2 separate regions of the Homo sapiens genome follow, and region 1 is linked to region 2. The links come from fine-mapping of genetic effects on gene expression. A gene starts in region 2. The other region holds a variant in brackets. All regions are shown on one strand. Distances are from middle to middle. Region 1 overlaps CENPA (centromere protein A). Region 2 holds the start of SLC35F6 (solute carrier family 35 member F6).

Evidence for each region. PIP is the estimated chance that this variant, and not a neighbour inherited with it, causes the effect.
Region 1: its variant is fine-mapped to the expression of SLC35F6 in whole blood (INTERVAL, PIP above 0.99).

What each region holds. Positions count from the first base shown.
Region 1 is chr2:26,787,175-26,795,503 of GRCh38, forward strand. CENPA (centromere protein A) reads left to right here. Exons shown (of 5, transcript NM_001809.4): 2 at 4,957-5,066; 3 at 5,582-5,659; 4 at 5,971-6,152; 5 at 6,638-7,415. The coding sequence ends at 6,105. Among named protein-coding and RNA genes, the nearest start is that of CENPA, 5.3 kb to the left of the region's middle. RefSeq lists a silencer at 7,533-7,733. The variant T/C (reference allele first, on the strand shown) is at 3,855.
Region 2 is chr2:26,759,596-26,767,924 of GRCh38, forward strand. SLC35F6 (solute carrier family 35 member F6) reads left to right here and starts at 4,689. Exons shown (of 6, transcript NM_017877.4): 1 at 4,689-4,831. The coding sequence starts at 4,755. RefSeq lists enhancers at 1-171, 4,346-4,545 and a silencer at 4,556-4,865.

The DNA.
Region 1 (8,329 bases), 28 kb after region 2:
GGATTGCAGGCATGAGCCACTGTGCCTACAGGCTTTTTTGGGTTTTTTGTTTTGTTTTGGAGACGGAGTCAGGCTTTGTCGCCCAGGCTGGAGTGCAGTGGCGCGATCTCCGCTCACGGCAAGCTCCGCCTCCTGGGTTCACGCCCTTCTCCTGCCTCAGCCTCCCGAGTAGCTGGGACTACAGGCGCCTACCACCACGCCCGGCTAATTTTTTGTATTTTTGGTAGAGACAGGGTTTCACCGTGTTAGCCAGGATGGTCTTGATCTCCTGACCTCGTGATCCGCCCACCTCGGTCTCCCAAAGTGCTGGGATTACAGGCGTGAGCCACCGCGCCCGGCCGGCTTTTTGGTTTTTTGTTGTTTTTTTTTTGAGACCCATCGCCCAGGTTGGAGTGCAGTGATGCCACGAGGGTTCACTGCAGCCTCAACTTCCCAGGCTCAGGTGCTTCTCCCAGCTCAGCCTCCCGAGTAGCTGGGACTACAGGCATATGCCACCATGCCGGCTAATTTTTTGTATTTTTAGTAGAGGTGGGATTTTGCCATGTTGCCTAGGCTGGAGTAGGTTGTTTCTAGATGTTGCTGTTGCGAATGGGATTTTTTTTCTTTCCCAAAACACGAGGATTTAACCTTTGCTTCCAGCCAACTTGCTGAATTCTCGTTCACCCTAGTCGTTTTTAGTTGCTCCAGTTGGAATTTTTAAGTAGACTATTATGTCATCTGCAAATAACTTTTGAATCTTCCGTTTTCATTTCTACACATTTTATTTATTATTGTATGGTACTAGTAAGGCCCTGAGACTCACTAAGAGTGGTGTTTTGGTCATCTTTGTCTTGTTTGTAATTTTAACAGGAATATTAAGTATGATGTTTGCTGTTGCTTTCCAAGGTAGAAGCATCCTTCTACTCCTGGTTAAATGGAAGGTTTATCTCAAATGGGCAGTCAACACTTCTTGGCAGTCCTACCACCTTTGTCTGGTATTCTTTCTTCAATTTTCGAGACAGAGTCTCACTCTTGTCATCCAGGCTGTAGTGCAGTGGTGCTATCTTGGTTCATTGCAGCCTTGACCTCCTGGGCTCATGCAGTCCTCCTGCTTCACCCTCCTGAATAGCTAGGATGACAGACCTGCACCACCATGCTTGACTATTTTTAAACCTTTTTTGTAGAGACAAATTGTTTTGTCTCTACAGAACAAAAAAAAAACAGCCATCGTGCCTGGCCTTTGTCTGGAATTCTTGCTTTTCCATTCTCCCCATGACTATTTCATACCTTTTTCTCCCTCCTCGACTTCCTACAGCTCCATTCCCCCCACTCACTCTTAGCCAATAATGGCCTTGACTAGGTGTCCCCCTTCCTATCAAAGCCCTTCCTTCTACATGGGGTCTTGGTCATATCCTTCTTTCACCTACAGAGGAGCTTTCTACCTGTGCTTAGATAAATCCAGACACTTCACACTGGCATCGGCACATATGCTCTAGTATTTATGATGTTTTGTTTTGTTTTGTTTTTGTTTTTGTTTTTGAGACGGAGTTTCCCTCTTGTTGCCCAGGCTGGAGAGCAACGGCGTGATCTCGGCTTACCGCAACCTCTACCTCCCGGGTTCAAGCGATTCTCCTGCCTCAGCCTCCCGAGTAGCTAGGATTACAGGCATGCACCACCGCATCCGGCTAATTTTGTGTTTTTAGTAGAGACGGGGTTTCACCATGTTGGTCAGGCTGGTCTCCAACTGCCAACCTCAAGTGATCCGCCCACCTTGGCCTCCCAGAGTGCTGGGATTACAGGCCTGAGCCGCTGCGCCTGGCCGTATTTACGATCTTAAGAGAAAGGGCAGGAGTGTTTCCTTGACCCCACATTCTCACTTCCCTATACCTCCCATTTCCCTCTACTTCCCTTCATAGCTGTCCTTTTAAAATAGCCAGACTTGTTAGGTCCACATACATTGCATCTGATTCCTCCCTTCCTAGTGACCCTACAACCCACTCCAATCTGACTCCCCACAACCACTACCCCCACTTCTAATCTGCTTGAACTACTCCTGTCAGGGTCACTAGCACCTTTTGTAGTGCCAAATCCAGTAGGTGGGTCTGTGTTCTTACTGTGTCTCAGAAGCATTTGACGCAGTGGGCCTCTTTCTCCTTGAAGCGTTCTGTTCCCTTGGCTTCCATGCCACTGTGCACTCTGGCAGTTCTGCTTGGTGTTCTCTACTGCCTGTGCTGCCTCCCTCGGCTCCTTGATGTTGGACTTCCTTGACATCCTTTTCCTTTCTACCCCCTCCCTAGGTGGTCTCATCTCCTCCGTGGCTCTAAATCCCACTCATACATTGACAGCTCTCAAATATCTGTATACCTGGATCTCTCCTCTGACCCCAGATACCTATATCTAACTGCCTTTCTACCTGAAGGCTCTTGGTTATGTTAAACTTAACACACCCAAAACTGAACTTCTGGTTACTCCCCTCCAGCCCCTTCATCCTCAGCTTCCCCATTTCAGTAAATGGCACAACTACCCACCCAGTTGTTCAAACCACAAGCCTGGGAGACCCCCGTCTCCAATACAAATGCAGGTCCAGATAATTCTACTTCCAAACTGCATCCTTAATCACTCCATTTTCACCATCTCTGCTCCCACTAGCCTAGTCCAAGCTACCAGCAGCTCTCGAGCAACTGTGAGAGCCTCCTAATCAGCTGCCACTCCACTTCCACTCTGTCCCTTTCTACTTCTTTCCTTACACAGCAGCTGGAATGACCTTCCACATCTCTATCCTGCATAAAACTCTTCCCTGGCTTCTTATTACAGTAGGATTAAATTCCATCTCCTCATGTTGGCATTTCAAGACCCAGCTACTAAATTTTTGATCCCAGTTCTTTTCCATGATCTCTCTAATTGGTTACTTTTCATAACCACTTGTTCTTGGGTCATGGATTTCATATCTCTGTTACCTCTCTGAGTTCATTAACCATTTTTCTCTCAAAGTTTCTATTTCTTTTCTCTATTAACTCAATTTCCTCTGGTATTGGCTATTTTGTTTGTTGAGTTTGGTTCCTTTCTTTCATGGTATTGGCCTTCTTAAATTGTTGGGTGATCTTTAGTTGTGTTCATCTTCAAATTTTCTGTGAATGCTATGTCTTGTTTATTTTTTTATTTTATTTTATTTATTTATATATTTTTGTTTGAGACACAGTCTCATTCTTGTTGCCCAGGCTAGAGTACAGTGGTGCGAGCTTGGCTCACTGCAACCTCCATCTCCTGGGTTCAAGCAATTCTCCTGCCTCAGCCTCCCAAGTAGCTGGGATTACAGGTGCCTGCCACCATGCCCGGCTAATTTTTGTATTTTTAGTAGAGATGGGTTTCTCCATGTTCATCAGGCTGGTCTCGAACTCCTGACCTCAGGTGATTGACCCACCTTGGCCTCCCAAAGTGCTGGGATTACAGGCGTGAGCCACCGCACCCAGCCCTATGTCTGTTTATTAAAGACTGCCTCCAGTGACTGGATTGCCAACTGGTGGTGGGGAGGGAGGGAGGTGTCAGTAGTTTTTCTCCTGGGCATGGGTCTTCCCAGTTTTAAATGTTATCAGTCTTCTGGACACTGCCCTGTTTCATTGGCCTGTGTTCTCTAGCCTCACCCAGGGATGGTCTCCTCTGCTGGCTGCCTGGCACAGGCCATCTCTGGATTGTCTCACCTACCCTACTTGCTCTTGCAGCTCTTCTAACACTTCGTGATTAGTTTATTGTATTAAATGCCTTCTATCGAACTTGGTGTAGAGTCTCTTTGCTTGGCTGGATCCTGAATAACATTTCTGAAACAATTTTATCCGTCAACATGTTATTTTTGTATTTTGTTTGTTCAACTTATCAGA[T/C]GTTCACTCATCTTGATCCTTGGTTGTAATTATGGAGCAACTGTGCTGTTTTTTCTTTAACTTTATTTTCACTAACTTATTTTCTAATATTTCTTTTGTTCTATCTTGTTTTGGTTTACTTTAATAACTCTGTAATACTTAATTTGACTGCTTGGCTCAGATACCTTTTAGTGTTCTTGTTTTCTAATAGGAACACTTTAAGGCTATGCATTTTCCTCTAGTACTATTTTGGCTGTATCTCATAAGTTTTGGGATATGGGCTTTTTATTGTTATTCATTTCCAAATAGTCTAATTTCAATTAAGTTTCCTCTTCAACACAGGTTAGTTAGAAGAAACTGGTTTTTGATTCATGAGTTTTTAATTTCCAATTAGAGAATTTGGCTTTTTTGATTCCTACTTTTGGGAATGTTTTTAAAATTATTTTCTTTTTTGTTCTTGTTGGAACCAGGATTTGAGCCAAAGGCTCTGTCTCCACAGCCCAGGTGCCTGACACTGACACTGAGTTAGGCCACACCTTACACAGGTCTCAGCTTGGCCACTAATGAGGGCTGGCCAACCATCTTCACCTCGCTGGGCCTCAGGATGATCAAGACAAGGGAATTGTACTAGTCTCTCAGATTCTTTCCAGCTGTAAAAAACAAACCAACAAAAAATCTAAAACCAAAATAACTGAGCTTCCAATCTAGGTGGGAAAGATCTAAGACTTGTACAAAGTCCTGCAAAGCCCAGAGGAGGGCGGTCACCCATCTGTTTGGAAGGATCAGGATTCGGGAAAGACTTCATGGAAGAGTTAGCATTTAAAATCAACTGCAGAGGATCATTCACTCATTCATTTAACAAATGTTTATTTAGCACCTATCTGCTATTTTCTAATTGCTGAAGATAGCAGCAAAATTACTATATATCAGGTTGGTGCAAAAGTATTGTGGTTTTTGCCATAACTGCAATGACTTTTGCAGCAACCTAATAAAACAGACAAAAATCCCTGCTCTGTGGAGGGTAGGCACATAGATATAGTCTAGCAATTTGACAGCTTACCTGACTCAGCCAAGCTGCGAGGCACCACCTATTTTCCACTGAACTTACCTTTCTTTTGCTCAGGCGCTTCCTCCCATCAACACAGTCGGCGGAGACAAGGTTGGCTAAAGGAGATCCGAAAGCTTCAGAAGAGCACACACCTCTTGATAAGGAAGCTGCCCTTCAGCCGCCTGGTAAGCTCCGGGAGCTTCCCACCAACCCCTATGCCACCCTCCTTTTTTTAAATTTTCCCAGGTATTAGGGACCCTACTGTCTCTTAACTAACTGGCCAAGGGACCTCTTTTGTAACCTGGTAGGGGATTCTTTTCTGAAAACATGAGCCCTCCAAGAGCACCTTGTAATTCTTTATGGAATTGATTTCTAACCTCTACTACCTTTTTAAAACTGTAGTTTTTGACTGTATAAATAGGAACTCTCTCGTTTGTCCACCTTAGATCCCTTTTCCTATCCTGGGAGATTGCCTCTCATCACCCAATTACTGGTGATTTCCCCATCACCAGTAAGAGATCCGCCAGTTCCTAAGCTCCCAGGAGTCAACACCTGCTCCTAATTGGGTCCTAAGATTAAGAGCCAGGAAAAAATAATGGAAAGGAAGATTCACTGGAACTCATGGAGAGCATCATTGTCCCTTGAATCTCTCTTCTGTTACTCCCTACTCCTACTCCTCCCCTTCCCCACTCCTTCACAGGCAAGAGAAATATGTGTTAAATTCACTCGTGGTGTGGACTTCAATTGGCAAGCCCAGGCCCTATTGGCCCTACAAGAGGTAAGAAGGCACCAAGGCACAATTGGGTGAGGGCTGAGTGGGAGAAAGAGGCAGCCTAGAATTCTCCAGTGCTGACTGGAGTGTCACATGCTGAATCTGACCTCTGGAAAAGAACAATGAGGTAACCTCTGAGGGTTTGGAGGCTGGATTCTGCGTGGTGATAGCAGAATTCCCTGGCAAAGTTCAGTCTCATTCTGTGAATAGTTTCCTACAATCCTTTGAGCCCTCAGAGATTAAGTTTAGCAGGTTTCCAAAAAAAAGCAGCCCGTGGCCCTTCATCTGTGTCCGTCTTTTTCTCTTTCTGTCTCCAGGCAGCAGAAGCATTTCTAGTTCATCTCTTTGAGGACGCCTATCTCCTCACCTTACATGCAGGCCGAGTTACTCTCTTCCCAAAGGATGTGCAACTGGCCCGGAGGATCCGGGGCCTTGAGGAGGGACTCGGCTGAGCTCCTGCACCCAGTGTTTCTGTCAGTCTTTCCTGCTCAGCCAGGGGGTAAGCTCATCCTCTTTCACAGGACTGGGGCTGGAATTTCTCAAGTAATTTCCTTTCTCCATCCATAGTCCCTTGTCACCTCGCCTTCCCTTTGTTCTCTAGTAAAGGTTGATCTAGTTTTGACTGCCTGGGACAATGTGGTTTGTGCCCTTTTGTGCAATGTTAGATAAAAGATATCTTTCTATTAAATAATAACCAGATGACCCTAATTTCTTTTGGTTGTTATTGTTGTTGTTTTATTTTTATAAGACAGGGTCTCTGTCATCAGTGTTGCCATCGTGGCTCACTGCAACTCCTGCCTTGGCCTCCCAAAGTGTTGAGATTACAAGAATCAGATGACCTCATTTTGATTAAGAGAAAACTTTCTAATAAACTTTCTAATAAAAGAGAACACTTTCTAATAAAAACTTTCTCTTTTTTGATTAAGAGAAAGTTTTCTTACTTTTGAAAATGGCTTGTTAGTAAGTGTGCTTCCTTAATTTCAGGGATGATACCGGGGACTCTCCAGAGCCATGACTAGATCCAATGGATTCTGCGATGCTGTCTGGACTTTGCTGTCTCTGAACAGTATGTGTGTGTTGCTTTAAATATTTTTCTTTTTTTTGAGAAGGAGAAGACTGCATGACTTTCCTCTGTAACAGAGGTAATATATGAGACAATCAACACCGTTCCAAAGGCCTGAAAATAATTTTCAGATAAAGAGACTCCAAGGTTGACTTTAGTTTGTGAGTTACTCATGTGACTATTTGAGGATTTTGAAAACATCAGATTTGCTGTGGTATGGGAGAAAAGGCTATGTACTTATTATTTTAGCTCTTTCTGTAATATTTACATTTTTTACCATATGTACATTTGTACTTTTATTTTACACATAAGGGAAAAAATAAGACCACTTTGAGCAGTTGCCTGGAAGGCTGGGCATTTCCATCATATAGACCTCTGCCCTTCAGAGTAGCCTCACCATTAGTGGCAGCATCATGTAACTGAGTGGACTGTGCTTGTCAACGGATGTGTAGCTTTTCAGAAACTTAATTGGGGATGAATAGAAAACCTGTAAGCTTTGATGTTCTGGTTACTTCTAGTAAATTCCTGTCAAAATCAATTCAGAAATTCTAACTTGGAGAATTTAACATTTTACTCTTGTAAATCATAGAAGATGTATCATAACAGTTCAGAATTTTAAAGTACATTTTCGATGCTTTTATGGGTATTTTTGTAGTTTCTTTGTAGAGAGATAATAAAAATCAAAATATTTAATGAAAATGGACTTACTGTTACAGCATAGAGATTATACTGTACTTTTTGTGTGTTAAAAATAAGTTCTTTATTTGTTTGCAAACAGCCACAATTTTTTTTTCTTTTTTTTTTTTTTGAGATGGAGTCTTTTTTTTTATTGATCATTCTTGGGTGTTTCTCGCAGAGGGGGATTTGGCAGGGTCATAGGACAATAGTGGAGGGAAGGTCAGCAGATAAACAAGTGAACAAAGGTCTCTGGTTTTCCGAGGCAGAGGACCCTGCGGCCTTCCGCAGTGTTTGTGTCCCTGGGTACTTGAGATTAGGGAGTGGTGATGACTCTTAATGAGCATGCTGCCTTCAAGCATCTGTTTAACAAAGCACATCTTGCACCGCCCTTAATCCATTTAACCCTGAGTGGACACAGCACATGTTTCAGAGAGCACAGGGTTGGGGGTAAGGTCACAGATCAACAGGATCCCAAGGCAGAAGAATTTTTCTTAGTACAGAACAAAATGAAAAGTTTCCCATGTCTACTTCTTTCTACACAGACACGGCAACCATCCGATTTCTCAATCTTTCCCCCACCTTTCCCCCCTTTCTATTCCACAAAACCGCCATTGTCATCATGGCCCGTTCTCAGTGAGCTGTTGGGTACACCTCCCAGATGGGGTGGTGGCTGGGCAGAGGGGCTCCTCACTTCCCAGAAGGGGTGGCCGGGCAGGGGCGCCCCTCACCTCCCGGACGGGGCGGCTGGCCGGGCGGGGGGCTGACCCCTCCTCCTCCCTCCCGGAGGGGGCGGCTGGCCGGGCAGAGGGGCTCCTCACTTCCCAGTAGGGGCGGCCGGGCAGAGGCACCCCTCACCTCCCGGACGGGGCGAACAGCCACAATTTAAACAAGATAATTAAGGGAGGTGGTTTTGCCTCTGGTGGAGTAGAGTATGA
Region 2 (8,329 bases):
TCTTCCAACTCCGCACTGACTGAAAGGAGAAGAGGCTCCAATTAAAGAAAATTCTAGAACATTCTGTGGGTCCCAGGCTTGTTCCACACTCACACCTCTGCACCGCTGTACATGCCATGTCCATCTGCAAGAAAGCCCTTCTGCTGTCTATCTGGGGACCTCCTATGTTTTTTCCAGGATCCCACTTATACACCTTCTCCAGCAGGTCTTCCTGCAATAAGGGAGTCTGGTGCAGCCCCTTGAGAGTTCTGCGTCCACTCTGGCCTTTTTCACAAGTTCGAGGCTGTCTTAGGGCAAGTAGGAGGAGTTGGCAGACAGGTCCTATCTCTGTACCTCTTGTTGATCTATTTGTTTAATTTAAAAAATTTGTGTGTGTGTGAGATAGGGTCTTGCTCTGTTGCCCAGGCTGAAGTGCAGGGGCATGACCACGGTTTACTGCAGCCTCAAAGTCCTGTGCTCAAGCAATCCTCCTGCCTCAGCTTCTCCAGTAACTGGGCTCACAGGCCCGCACTACCACCCCTGACTAATTTTTAAGTGTTTTTGTAGAGATGAGGGTCTGGCTATGTTGCCCAAGCTGCTCTCAAATTCCTGGGATTAGGAGGCCTCAGCCTCCCAAAGTGCTAGGATAACAGGTGTGAGCCACCACACGGGCCACCTCCTGTTCATCTAAAATGAAGTTGCTAGCCATCTGGGCGTGGTGGCTTACACCTGTAATCCCAACACTTTGGGAGGCCAAGGTGGGTGGATCACTTGAGGTCAGGAGTTCAAGACCAGCCTGGCCAACACGGTGAAACCCCATCTCGACTATAAATACAAAAAATGTAGCTGGGCATGGTGGTGCTCACCTGTAATCCCAGCTACTCGGGAGGCTGAGGCAGGGGAATTGCTTGAACCTGGGAGGCAGAAGTTGTAGTGAGCCAAGAATGTGCCACTGCACTCCAGACTGGACGACAGAGCACCACTTCATCTTAAAAAAAACAAGAAGGTGCCAAGGCACAAAATATAAGTTAAACAGTTTACTTGAGCCAAAATGAGGACAGCTGCCCAAAAGACTCAGACGCAAGTAATCTTGGATGTGAGCTCCCTTCTCTCTTTGTTACAAACAGGTTTTTAAAGGCAGAAAAAGGAGGACAGGGAGTGGGCTGATACAAAGTTGTTTGTCAGAAATTCTCATTGGTTTACAGAAATAACATTGATTAGTGATTGGCTGTACAGTGCTATAGGATGTAAGATATGGTGTCCAGTGCAGCATTGTTAGGTTATAGCTACCTGTGGCAATAGCAAGCAGTTTCAAGACATAAATACATAACTCAAAGTGGGAGTAGGACGTGATTGCTGTCTTATTTTAATGTCTCTCTGGGCCTGATAACTTACAGGACTCGCATTCCTCAGGTAAAAGTTCTTTTCTCACCACAGAAACAAGATCTGCAGCATAGGGGAAGTGTGTTGGCTCGGTCTGAAGTCGTTTTCCAAAGTGTCAGAGACATTTAAATCAGAGCAACTCCATCTTGAACAGGGGCTGGGTAAAACGAGGCTGAGACCTACTGGGCTGCATTCCCAGGAGGTTAGGCATTCTAAGTCACAGGTCGAGATAGGAAGTGGGCACAAGGTACAGGTCACAAAGACCTTGCTGATAAAACAGGATGCAGTAAAGAAGCCGGCCAAAACCCACCAAAACCAAGATGGCGACAAAAGTGACCTCTGGTTTTTCTCACTGCTTGTTATACACTATTTATAATGCATTAGCATGCTAAAAGACACTCGCACCAGCGCGCGACAGTTTACAGATGCCATGGTAGCAACTGGAAGTTAACCTACATGGTCTAAAAAGGGGAGGAACACTTAGTTCTGGCAATTGCCCACCCCTTTCCCAGAAAACTCATGAATAATCCACCCCTTGTTTGGCATATAATCCAGAAATATCCATAAAAATAACCAATCAGCAGCCCTCGGGGCTGCTCTGCCAATGGAGTAGCCATTCTTTATCCTTTACTTTCTTAATAAACTTGTTTTCACTTTATGGATTCCCCGCAAGGTGCCAGGTCCAAGAACCCTCTCTTGAGGTCTGGATCAGAACCCCTTTCTGGTAACAAAAGGATCTTGTCGCTGGCGTGACAGGGCATGGGTGCAGACTAGAGCACTGGGAAAGGCATATTAGGAGCAGTTTTTTCTTTTCTTTTTCTTTCTTTTTTTTTTTTTTTTTGAGATGGAGTTTTCGCGCTTGTTGCCCAGGCTGGAGTGCAATGGCTCGATCTTGGCTCACTGCAACTTCCATCTCCCAGGTTCAAGCGATTCTCCTGCCTCAGCCTCCGGAGTAGCTGAGATTACAAGCATGCACCCCCACACCTGGCTAATTTTTTGTATTTTAGTAGAGATGGGGTTTCACCATGTTGGTCAGGCTGATCTTGAATTCCGACCTCAGGTGATCCACCTGCCTCAGCCTCCCAAAGTGCTGGGATTACAGGTGCGAGCCACCGCGCCTGGCCTTTTTTTTTTCTTTTTTTAAGACAGGGTGTCACTTTGCCACCCAGGCCGGAGTATAGTGGCATGATCTCAGTTCATTGCAACCTCCACCTCCAGGGACTCAAGCGATCCTCCTACTTAGCCTCCTGAGTAGCTGGGATTATGGGTACTTGTCATGACACTCAGCTAATTTTTGCATTTTTAGTAGAGACTGAGTTTTGCCATGTTGCCCAGGCTTGTCTGGAAATCCTGAGCTCAAGCAATCAGCCCGCTTCAGCCTCCCAAAGTGCTAGGATTATAGGTGTGAACCACCACACCCAGCCAAGAGTAGGATTTTAAACACCAGAACCCCTTGAGGACTAAGCTCTGATTTTTTTTACCTTGCCCAAATTCCTACCTAAGAGGTCTGGAGAGTCATGCCCTACAAACCATAAATTCTCATCAGATGGGTTTTATTTAACCCTATATATCATGACTTACTTTCCAATCTGACTCTGGCATAATATTATGTGACTAAGAAGAAAGTCAAAAGATTTTACCCCAAAACATTTTTCTTTGCCATATCTTGAAATGGCCCTGCAAATCTGTCTTTTGTGGGGGAAAATTTGCATCTGTAAAGAATCTCTATTACCGGCCGGGCGTGGCGGATCACGCCTGTAATCCCAGCACTTTGGGAGGCCGAGGCAGGTGGATCAGGAGTTCAAGACCAGCCTGGCCAACATGGTGAGACCCCCCCCATCTCTACTAGAAATACAAAATTTAGCCAGGCGTGGTGGCAGGCACCTGTAGTCCCAGCTACTTGGGAGGCTGAGGCAGAGAACTGATTGAATCCGGGAGGTGGAGGTTGCAGTGAGCCGAGATCGCACCACTGCACTCCAGCCTGGGCGACAGAGCAAGACTCCGTCTCAAAAAAAAACAAAAATCTCTATTAACATAGATAGATATTTTTCCCGTTTCCTGCCCCACCCTCTCCCCTCCTCCCGGCTTTGAGTTGTCCTACCTTTCTGGACCAAACCAATGTATTTCTTAAATGTATTTGATTGATGTCTCGTGTCTTTCTAAAATGCTGCGCCCCGACCACTTTGGGCACATGTTCTCAGGACCTCCTGAGGGCTGTGTCACGGGCCATGGTCACAAATATTTGGCTCAGAATAAATCCCTTCAAATATTTTAGAGTGTGACTCTTCGTCAACACCCTCTTCAAACAAACCTAGGGATGGTCTTTCTGCCTGGATGCCTCAGCTGCGACCAGAAAGTCCACAAAGGAGCAGTGAAGCAGGGCTTGGTGCAGAGGCCATGCGGAAGGCACGGATTTTTGGAGACTGGAGAACCCAAGCGCAAATCCCTACCCCACTGCTCACCAGCAGGTTCTTAAGCAAATCACTCTGCTTCGCTGAATTTACTGTCCTCAGCTATAAAATGGTGTCCTCGGCAACTGGAGCTAGATGCCTTCGCCACTTTGCTGAAAGATATGAACTGTGCCCAAGGTGGGCGGTATCAGATAGGAGCCCCGAAGTGGAAACGTCCAGCGTGGGAATCTCCTCTCTACAGGGTCCCCAAGGAACTCCCGGCAGGCCCACTTCAGGGCTCCTTTCTGACACCGCCCAGCTCAACCTCTCAAAACGATTCACAAAATGCTGTAATAGCCACGATGCACCCTCACTGCACTGTCCCATCCGCCCCTTTTACAAATAGGAAGACCCAAAGATAAAAATAAGAAACCAAGGCCAGGCGCGGTGGTTCACGCCTGTAATCCCAATACTTTGGGATGCGGAGGAGGGCGGATCACCTGAGGTCGGGAGTTCGAGACCAGCCTGGCCAACATGGTGAAGCCCTGTCTCTACTAAAAATACAAAAAATTAGCCGGGCGTGGTGAAGGGCGCCTGTAATCCGAGCTACTCGGGAGGCTGAAGCAGGAGAATCGCTTGAACCCAGGAGGCGGATATTGCAGTGAGCCGAGATCATGCCATTGCACTCCAGCCTGGGCGACAGAGTGAGACTCCTTCTCAAAAAAATAGAAAAAAGAAACCCAAAAAGGCGGGGGAGAGTGAGGAAGAAAAGAAAAAAAAAACTGGAAGGCCTGGGCCGTGATTTGCCAGGGCCACGGCGTGGCCACCAAAGCGCTCCAGGACGACTCGGCAGAGCGCGGGCACCGTGGCTCAGGCGCGCTCCCCGGGGGCGGGGCGAGCAGGAGGGGTCACGTGACGCCCGGCCCGGAAGCGCTCGCGCAGGAGACCCCGGGTGACGGGGCCCGGCGCCGCTAACTGGAGCGAACCCCAGCGTCCGCCGACATGGCCTGGACCAAGTACCAGCTGTTCCTGGCCGGGCTCATGCTTGTTACCGGCTCCATCAACACGCTCTCGGCAAAGTGAGTCTGGGCCCTGCCGGGCGTGCGGGCCCTGGCGACCCCGGCGCTCGTTCTACGCCTTCCCCCTTCTTGGCCCTGCCCTCCTGGCTTCCCCTGCTTTCCCACTTGCTCCGGTCAGTTCGCGCGCGTTATGACCACCCAAGGGATGCGAGGCCCGGGGAAATGCGGAGCGGGGCTGCGCCCCGGACGGGGGGATCCGAGCCCCGGCTTTGATTTGCTGTACAGCCTCCGCTCCTGTTTCCACGTCTTTTAACAGGAGGGTTGGCCGATTCCTTTCCACGGCCCTTCCAGTGCTGGCGTCCAAGCCTGAGCACCTCCCTCCACGAGCTGGGAGAGACCCCTGGACTTGTGCACATGAGCCGCAGTAGTGGCTGTGCAGGCCGAGTGACCCAGTGAGCGTGGAGGCCTCAAGCGGCAGACAGGGAGGTGCCCCACGGCCCCTCAAGGATGAGGGGTTAGAGCTGTGCTTTGAAGCTTAGGTGGGATTTCGGAATGTGTCTGAGACTGTAAGTCAAGGAAAGTCTACGGAAAGGCCAGATCAAAGTCGATTGTAACCAGCATCAAATGCCCAGGTTAGATTTTCTCTCATAATCAGAAAAGTGCTTTTGAGCTGGGGAATGACATGTTGAAAGTGATATGATTGACTCAATGACATGAGGAGTGGTTTGGTGCAGGAAAAACCACTCCAAGGCTGCTGCATAGCAGATGAGGGGAACTAGGAGGTGGCAGTGAGAAGAGAAAGGAAGGGACAACTGGTGGCAGAGACCAGGTGTGAATGGCCACAGGCCTGACCCACATGAGCAAGAAACAAGGATCACTCCAGGGTTTCTGCCTGGGAGAAGAAAAGTGCCATTAACTCAGACAGAGAGGGCAAGTGGCCAGTTCAGCTCTGATGTATGGGGGTGAGAGGGGGGACAGTTCCCAGGAGGTTAGGGACTAAGGACCCAGGCAGTCATGAGACTGAGGGACAGGGCCTAGCCTCCCCTCTGTTGTGGGCAGGATGGCATTTCTTTGTCTCTCTCTGTCTCCATCTCAGGGCAGGGCCTTCCTGCCCCTCCTTTTCTTGTTGCCCAGGCTGGAGTGCAATGGCACGATCCCATGTATAAGGTACCTACGGTGTGTAAGGGAAGGGGACAGAAGTGACCAAGAGGCGATCTCTGCCTTTGAGATGCTTGGAATCTGAGGTGGAGGAGACAGACGTGTACGCACACGACAGTCACAGTGTTCTCCCTTCCCCAAACGGTGGGCACAGTCAGTGGAGTCCTGGGTGGGCCCCACCTGTTCCTCTGGTTCACCTCTGGCCAACTGTGCCTTGTGGAGAACTACTAGCTTCCCAGGCCCTGCATCCTCCTGAGGATCACTCCTCATGCTGAATCCTTAGCTGTTCAGAGGCCCCAGCCTGAGGGCTCCCATCTCAGGATCTGAACACAGCAAAGCAAGTCTTCTGTTCTGTCATGCCAGCCAGGGCCTCTGTCAAGTGCTTAGAGAGCGGTTGTAAGTCCACCAGGGCTGCTGCCCACAAGGAGAATCCAGATTGCCAGTTACTGCTGGGGTAAACTGTGCTGATTCACCTCCTTCCTTAGAAAACTCCAAACCAGTCAGGTAGGAAGCTTAGAGATCCTCAATCCCAGAAGGCGTCGCCTTTAAAGGCTGCCTGAGAGTCAGGAAAGAGGCTCCCAGGTGACAGACCCAACTTTTGGTCCTGTCCCCTGCCTGACAGCTGGTGTGGGGCCTCTCAGGATCCTCCCACCCCAAGATGGGCCCCCAAATTGGACCCTAAACAGTGTTCTAAGGTCAAACCACAAGAAGGGATACTCTTAGGGAGAAAGAACATGTGGGAGCAGCTGCATGCACCCCGATGTGAAGTATGGATTTGAAATCACATTTCTGGCCCGGCGCGGTGGCTTACGCCTGTCATCCCAGCACTTTGGGAGGCAGAAGCGGCTGGATCACTTGAGGTCAGGAGTTTGAAACCAGCCTGACCAATATGGTGAAACTGCATCTCTACTAAAAATACAAAAATTAGCTGGGCGTGGTAGTGCGCACCTGTAGTCCCAGCTACTTGGGAGGCTGAGACAGGAGAATTGCTTGAACCCGGGAGGCGGAGGTTGCAATGAGCCAAGATTGCACCACTGCCCTCCAACCTGGGTGACAGAGTGAGACTCGGTCTCAAAAAAAAAAATAAAAGGAAATCACATTTTTGACCCACGATTTCCAGCAGGCACAGACAGACAAGCATGTGCTGACAACTAGCAGAAGCATCTCATGCACAAAGAGCACCTCGCATGCCCCAGGCCCTGCTCTGCCCTTTCATGTGTGAACTCAGGGAATTCTCATAACCACCCTATCAGGCAAAGACAGGGGCTGATATTCCTGTATAAGGAAACTGAGGTAGGAAATGATTAAATTCCTTGCCCAAGTTCAACTTAGCTACTAAGTGGCAGAGTTTATAGTTGAGCCAGCATGGTCTGGCTCTAGCATCCATGCTCTTAACCACCACTGGAGGGTGTGGCTGGGGACTTCTCCAGTCATTTTGGGGTCATTTAGAGTTGTTAAAAGCATAGAAATCATCCAGTCTAATCCCCACAATTTACAAAGGAGGCCTCAGGAGAAGTTTCTTTCTGTGATTCAACTGTTTGGTGTCTGAATGAAGGCTGGAACCCAGGCCTCAGGACTTTAAGTCCTGTTCTTTTATGACTGTGATACCCCAGAGTCCCTCCTTCCTGGGAGTTTCCTCTCACAGCTCCCCAGGCCAGGACAGAGAAGCCTGTGCTTGTGGAAGTTGTAAACCTGTAAGTGGCATCTGCGCTCCCAGCCTTTGATGTGCCTCTCTCCAGGACTGGGCTGCCAGCCTCTCAGCCAGCCCAGAGACACTGCTGACAGGGTCCTCCCGCTGGAGTCCAGGCCACTCAAGGTTCAGACTGACAGCCTGTGGTTGTCTCTGGCAGTTTCTTGGCCTGTGACAAGAGTGATGTTTCCCTTCCCAGGTTCTTGGGAGGATGAAAGGCAGTGGATGAGGAAGCACATCTGAGCACGTGCTGCCTGCTGTGCTGGGGCGGCAGGTCAGCTTTCCTCTCTGCGGCCCCATCCCTGGGTCCTGGCAGGGGGCCCCTCCCTGTGAAGTGGCTTCTTCTTTCCCTGGCTGTTTTCTCAAAACCTCCTCACTAGCACCTTCTGTCGATCATCTTCTTTAGGCCAAGCCATTTCTGTCTACGTGAGCCAGTGCCCCATCCACAGGTACTCATTTCAGAACCCCAGTCTCCTGAATCCAACTGAGGTTCTACATATGAAGAGCCGGGGTCAGCTGGGCACTGTGGCTCCAGCTTGTAATCCCAGACTGGAGGCTGAGGTGGGATGATCATTTGAGCCCAGGAGTTCAAGATCAGCCTGGACAACATAGGGAGACCTCGTTCTCTACAAATAATAATAATAAATAATTAATTAATAGAGCCAGGGTCAAGTAGATGCTCACTAAGTAAGGCTCAGCTCCCCTCCTAA